2 linked regions of the Homo sapiens genome follow. The protein of the gene in region 2 interacts with the protein of the main gene of each other region in a pairwise test. Each region holds a gene or a part of one and is shown on either strand. Other genes may lie near its edges.

Evidence for each region. The genes of interacting proteins can lie anywhere in the genome.
Region 1: the proteins of CLDN8 (region 2) and CLEC17A interact in binary tests that used the Homo sapiens proteins (3 or more experiments, as listed by UniProt).

What each region holds. Positions count from the first base shown.
Region 1 is NC_000019.10:14,599,995-14,603,747, reverse strand, and holds part of CLEC17A (C-type lectin domain family 17, member A), read right to left. Parts: intron 3,718-3,753; coding exon 3,566-3,717; exon of another isoform or gene 3,486-3,565; intron 1-3,485. UniProt on the Homo sapiens protein: Cell surface receptor which may be involved in carbohydrate-mediated communication between cells in the germinal center. Binds glycans with terminal alpha-linked mannose or fucose residues.
Region 2 is NC_000021.9:30,214,790-30,218,542, forward strand, and holds the start of CLDN8 (claudin-8), read right to left. Parts: upstream 1,309-3,753; 5' UTR 1,137-1,308; coding exon 459-1,136; 3' UTR 1-458.

The DNA.
Region 1 (3,753 bases), on a different chromosome or scaffold from region 2:
ACTCCTGTAATCCCGGCACTTCGGGAGGTCAAGGGGAGCAGATCACTTGAGATCATTAGCTAGAGAGCAGCCTGGCCAACATGATGATACCCTAACTCTACTAAAAAAAAAAATACAAAACTTAGCTGGGAGTGGTGGCACGTGACTATAGTCCCAGTTACTTGGGAGGCTAAATCAGGAGGATTGCCTGAACCTGGGAGATGGAGGCTGCAGTGAGCCAAGATCATGCCACTGCACTCCAGCCTGGGCAACAGAGCAAGATCCCATCTCAAAAAAAAAGTGAGCTATACTACTTTGCACAGATTGTCTCATTGGATCCTTATCATGACTCACTGAAGCAAGTATTATCATTATGCCCATTTTGTAGATGAGAAAACTGAGGCACAGAGGGGTTAAGTAACCTTCCCAGGATCATTCAGTCTGTAGATGTCCCAGTAGATACCAGTTTGGAGTAAAGACAGCAAAGACCCGATGTGTGCTCCCTTCCACCTTGACCCCACAAAAGCTGTCCCCATTTAGAAGTAAAATGGGAGAACCCAATTGACTGAGAGTAAATGTACACCATTCTAGCAGAATGAGAACTCAAGAGAGAAACTAAAATGAGTAATTTAAAGGAAATGTAGTTGTATTTCTTGTGAAACTGAGTTAGGGAATATGATTTGCACCTGCCTCATTTACATTACCTAATTTAACTCCTTCAAAAGCCCTGTTTTGGCCAGCCACGGTGGCTTATGCCTGTAATCCCAGTACTTTGGGAGGCCAAGGCAGGTGGATCACCTGAGGTCAGGAGTTCGAGACCAATCTGGCCAACATGGAGAAACCCCATCTCTACCAAAAGTACAAAATTAGCCAGGCATGGTGGTGGGCGCCTGTAATCCCAGCTACTCGGGAGGTTGAGGCGGGAGAATCACTTGAACTCGGGAGGCAGAGGTTGCAGTGAGCCAAGATCATGCTGCTGCACTCCAGCCTGGGCAACACAGCAAGACTCCATCTCAAAAAAAAAAAACTGTTTAACTACTCATACAAATAATGCTATGAAACAGAGGGATAAAAAACAGAAGGGACACGACATACAGGAAAATAATAAGATGATAGACCTAAATCCAACCCAATCAGTAATTATATTAAATGTAAACGGTCTAAAAATACCAATTAGGCTGGGTACAGTGGCTCATGCCTGTAATCCCAGCACTTTGGGAGGTGAAGGCGGCAGATCACTTGAGGTCAGGAGTTCCAGACCAGCCTGGGCAACATAGCAAAACCTCATCTCTACAAAAAATGTTAAAAATTATCCAGGCATGGTGGCACACACCTGTTGTCCCAGCTACTTGGTGGGGAGCTGAGGTGGGATAATCACTTGAGCCCAGGAGGCCAAGGCTGCCATGAGCTGAGGCTGCGCCACTGCACTCCAGCCTGGGTGACAAAGTGAGACCCTGTCTCCAAAAATACATAAATAAGTAAATGAAAACACCAATTAAAAGCCAGAGATTATCAGATCAGATTTTAAAAATCCAAACCCAACTATATACTGTCTGGGAAAAAAAAAACATTTTAAATATAATGACATAAATAAATTAAAAATAAAATGAATAGAAAACATAGAGCCTAGGCAACATAGCAAGACCCTGTCTCTACAAAAGTAAAAATAATTTGCTGGGCCAGGCGCGGTGGCTCATGCCTGTAATCCCAGCACTTTGGGAGGCCGAGGCAGGCAGATCACCAGGTCAGGAGATCGAGACCATCCTGGCTAACACAGTGAAACCCCGTCTCTACTAAAAATACAAAAAATTAGCTGGGTGTGGTGGCGGGCGCCTGTAGTCCCAGCTACTCGGGAGGCTGAAGTGGGAAAATGGCGTGAACCCGGGAGTCAGAGCTTGCAGTGAGCCGAGATCGCGCCACTGCACTCCAGCCTGGGTGACAGAGCGAGACTCCATCTCAAAAAGTAATAATAATAATAATAATTTGCTGGGTACAGTGGCAAGTGCCTGGTTGTCCTAGCTACTCAGGAGGGTGAGGCGAAAGAATTGCTTGAGCCTAGGACTTTGAGGCTGCAACGAGCTATGATTATACCACTGCACTCCAGCTTGAGTGACAGAGTGAGACCTTGTCCCTGAAAAACAGAAAAAAGGAAACATAAACCATACTATAGTCCTATGTCTATGGTCAAGACCATGGACTTGAAAGCCGGCTACCTAGGCTTAAATCCCACTAGCTGTAAGTGACTCCAGGCAAGTTGCTTACATGTACTGGAACCTTGACTTCCTCACCTGTGAAGTACAGATGATACATATTGTGTACAAATAGTAATACTACCTAAATTGTAGTAGCAAATCATTAAAGCTATTTACCCATATTCCAATCCTCCTTCTGGTTGCACGGAGGTGAGACTTATTTCCCTACCACCTTAAAAGATAGGCGTGTACATGTGACTTTTGTGAGCAAAAGTAAATGGAAACTCTGACAGTCAATGTATGATTTCCCTCGTCTACTTTCACCATTGGACTATGGAGACTGTCTGTTACCGCAGCATAAAGTAACCCCTCCTAGCCCAGCGTGGTGGCTCACACCTATAATCCCCGCACTTTGGGAGGCAGAGGTGGGAGGATCACCTGAAGTCAGGAGTTCGAGAACAGCCTGGCCAACATGGAGAAACCTCATCTCTACTAATAATACAAAAGTTAGCCAGGCGTGGTGGCACATGCCTGCAATCCCAGCTACTCGGGAGACTGAGGCACTAGAATTGCTTGAACCCGGGAGGCAGAGGTTGCAGTGAGCCAAGATTGCACCACTGCACTCCAGCCTGGGTGACAGAGTGAGACTCCATCTCAAAAAAAAAAAAAAAAAAAAAAAAAAAAAGAAGGCCGAGCGTGGTGGCTCACGCCTGTAATCCCAGCACTTTGGGAGGCCGAGGCGGGCAGATCACGAGGTCAGGAGATCAAGACCATCCATCCTGGCTAACACAGTGAAACCCTGTCTCTACTAAAAATACAAAAACAAAATTAGCCGGGCGTGGTGGTGGGCACCTGTAGTCCCAGCTACTCAGGAGGCTGAGGCAGGAGAATGGCGTGAACCCGGGAGGCGGAGCTTACAGTGAGCCAAGATCCAGCCACTGCACTCCAGCCTGGGTGAAAGAGCGAGACTCCATCTCAAAAAAAAAAAAGAAAAGAAAAGAAATAAACTCTTCCGACTGGCATACTAATGTATAGGTTGTCGTGAGGATTGCATGTGTTAATGACTGTAAGATGTAAAGTATTTGGAATGCAACCTGAAACATAAAAAGTGCTACCTAACAGATATTAATTATTGTATTTTCATGTTAGAGATAAAACCGATACTTGAAATGTACAGAGGTTAAATCAACACAACCAGAATTTGAACTCAAAAACAAAGCATGTCTTCTTAACCTCTGCATGATACTACCTTAGGAAGAGCTTGCTGTTAAAGTTTTAGTAACTGAAAAGTAATTCTAATTTCTTGCCATCCAGGGAAGGGAGGGATGTGTGCATCCTGGAAGAGAAGCAGGCTGTCCCTGAAGGTTCTCAAAGGTTCAGTGGGAAGAACTCACGTGCTCAGCAAAGCTATTGATGATGACCAAGTGAGAGTAATTCTCCTGGCAGAACATCCGGGCCTCATCCCATGACTTGGTGCTTGGGGAGAAGTAGTAACACTTGCCCTCAAAGGGCAGCCAGCCTTCAGGACAGGTAATTCGGCGGCAGTCTGGGAACCAGACAGAATGCTGTCAGGATGGCCCCA
Region 2 (3,753 bases):
TCCATGATTTCCCTGAAAAGCAATAGTTGAGTTCTATTTATTCAGTGTAATGGACTGGCATTTCATTTTAAATAAAACCATATAAGCATGTCTCTATGTGAGATATAAATGTTACACTCATCTATGTACATAATGCTATGTCGTGGAGAAATTACAGTAGTAAAATAATGCAGTCTTTAGCAATGTCATTTTGAAGTAAATGATAAAAAGAGTAGATGCTTGAACCACCTTAGAAAACAAATTACTATACTTTCTAGAACAATCAAAGCATTGGGTTTAATATCTCATTCTGCTGAAATAGCTTATAGAATCATAAATAGCTGATGCACAGTTCCTGTAATTAAGATTAGGCAGTTAAGAACAGTAAATCAAAGTTTCTTTGGGGTCCATTTTGAGAAAGTAATATAGATTTTTGTCATTTGCATGGCTTTATAGTAAAGTTAAAAAAACATACACAACTACACATACTGACTTCTGGAGTAGACGCTCGGTGACTTCTTTCCGGTGTGATAACTTTTTTGGGTTGTGCGATGGGAAGGTATCGAGTATCTGTAGCTACTGCTCTTTTCGTTGCAACAAAAAACGCAGCAGAACAGAGCTCCTCCAACAATCAGCACCAGTGCCGTGGTCCATCCTAAGTAGAGAGCTTCTCCAAGCTCACGTTTTTGGGCAACATTCACTATTGAGTTATAGAAATCTCTGATGATGGCATTGGCAACCCAGCTCACAGGGATGAGCACCACCATGCCCGTGATGATGAAGATGATTCCAGCCGTCAGCAGAATGTGAGCCTTCACCTTCTCATTGTCCCCCGTGCACCTGGTGCATTTCATGCCAAGGATGGCCATCATGAAAGCCAAGAAGGACATCACGGAAGCAGCACACATCAGTCCTCTGGCTGCCTGTAGGTCCGGAGAAAGAGCCAGCAGGGAATCATAGATTTTGCACTGCATCCTGATGTTAGCCTGCCTCACGCAATTCATCCACAGTCCTTCCCAGAAGTTTTCAAAAACCACGATGTTGTTTTCAATGAAGGCCGACACTCTCCACTGAGGCATGACAGTGACAGCCACTGTGCCCACCATTCCAACACCACCAAGAAACAGCCCAGCGATTTCTAAGGCATGGGTTGCCATTATCCTCTGGGATGAGTTTTAGCCAGCTGGACTCCGGAACTGCTACTTCTGCTTTGAAGCAGGGTTCTCTGTGCCACAGAAGAGAACAGTTTTTCCTGTAGTAATGAACTCGGAACCCAGTGGTTTTTCAAATAAGAGCTGCTTTGCTACTTCTGGCCAGATAGTATCCAGTGCTGGCTGGCTGAGATGGCCCTGCTATTGGCTGCAACAGGTAAACTTACAAATCAGGTGTGGCAACTTTCTCAGCCAATAAAAGGTGGATGGTAATCCAGGTGTGTCTAAACCAACACTTGGGTACTTGGAACAGCTAGACCTGCACATAAACATTCTTTATACTTCTCGGTCTTCCAAGAAGACAGCAGTATGTTTACCTGTAGGCATAGTTATAAGTGGTTGCATAAGCATCAAGAAATGAGCCGATCCCTTGTAATGTGAAAGGTGCACCTTGTACAGGCAATTCTGAAACTCTTAATAAGAGCTGCTGGGACCAAGGGATAAAATAAATTATCTGCCGAAGAATTCTGCAACGCTGTTGAAATGCCAAAGTGAAACGAGAGTAGGGGATTGAAAGATTGCTTTTACCTGGGAAGCCACATTCTTTGGGACACATGTGATCCAAGTGATTGATTTAATTTTTCTACAACTTCAAAGCAAGCTCTACTGTGGTGAAATCAGGGAACAGATCATGCCAGAGGACAAAATAAGCTAAAGTAATTAAATACACAAGGCTGTCCTTCTCCTTGGCACTGAAAACATATTGGAGTTCTTTAAGCCAGAAAAAATACTCATTGACACTTTTCTGATAATCTTCACTTATAAAAACATTTTTTGCCAAAATAAAAATCACCAGATGATTATCTTATGTATCCAGCACTATAGCATTAAAATAAGCTTATGAGCTTATTTTGTGGTGTTATTCTTGCTGCTTTGAATTCCTGGGCTGAAGGAACTAGAATTCTGAAGATGACACAAGACCCTTGGGCCTATACAAATGGCTGATATTTCAAAATAAGATATTTACAAGACAAGGGAACTATATTTACCAAACTGTATTATATTAGGTATTAACCAAATATGTTTTCCTACCTTTTAATATTATGTCTGCAGTAGGACATAGAAACCCCTAAACGCAAGACAATTTGAACTTTCTTCTCAAAATAATGATGCTCTAACAGTAGTGCTATACTAAGCATAAATGTTTATCTGAGAAAATTCGACTAGCAATTTTCTTCTGGAGATCACCTTAAGCTCTCTGTCTGATCTTTCCAAAGTTTAAGCTGCCACTTCATTTTCTTTTCTTCTTAACATCATAAAAAATGATTTTCTCTTTACAGTTTTACTTTCTCTCTGTTTCATTGGACTACCTTAAATCCAAATATGGGAGAAAATCGTTTCTGCTCACTGATTAAACTTTGAGAGTTTCATGGTTCAAAAAATCTGAGTCATTTGTGGATATTATTAAAACAAAAACTATATGGTAGAAAGGGCAAAAGGAGGATCAAGTAGACTGTCTTCTAAAAAAGAGGCAGGACAGACGCACAGTAGTATGAGTTGTTATAATTTTGTTAAACAGACGTTATAAACCTTATAAAAAGTTAAAACTTAATATTTACAGAAATATTCTCATTTGTTGACCTGTGAGGTGCCAAACTTCAGGGTGTCCCTTAGGCTGATGCAGAAAATATGCAGCATTTGGCCGGGGCGGTGGCTCACGCCTGTAATCCCAGCACTTTGGGAGGCCGAGACGGGCAGATCAAGAGGTCAAGAGATCGAGACCATCCTGGCTAACACGGTGAAACCCCGTCTCTACTAAAAATACAAAAAATTAGCCTGGCATGGTGGCGGGCGCCTGCAGTCCCAGCTACTCGGGAGGCTGAGGCAGGAGAATGGCATGAACCCAGGAGGCAGATCTTGCAGTGAGCCGAGATCGCGCCACTGCACTCCAGCCTGGGTGACAGAGCAAGACTCTGTCTCAAAAAAAAAAAAAAAAAAGAAAAGAAAATATATGACATTTTCTTCATCAAGTTTCTATCAGTTACAGATTTGTGGTGGAGGGAGACTTAGATTAATCTTGGGAAAATAAGATTTTAAAAGTTGAGATTTTAAACTTTCAAAGTTTAAGAAGTGAGCAGAAAACATTTTCTCCCATATTTGGATTTAAGGTAGCCCGATGAAGCAGAGAGAAAGTAAAATTTCAAAGAAAGGATCATTTTTATGATGTGAAGAAGAAAAGAAAATGAAGTAAAGCTTAAAGATTTTCCTTTTGTGCAATCCACAAAAGGAAAAATGACATATAAACAGAAGATATTTTTCATCTTTAATTGTCAAACTGGGAAAAAGGAGTGATTGACAGAACTGAAAAATGAAAAAGAAATAATATAACTGGTTGAGATAATGACTACGTGAAGCTACATTTTAAGGGATGTCAAGGCATATATTGCTTCATTGAAATTTCTTTTCGAATTCCCGTGTGGCATGTTTCTTAGGAGCTCTGTTTAAATATTGCTGACTATCCACATCAACACAGGAACGCATGAGACAGAAGCAGAAAGCTCTGCCTCTGAGTGCCTCAGCCGTTGTGGGAGCTGCTTCCCAGGTACGCATTCATATTTCTTGG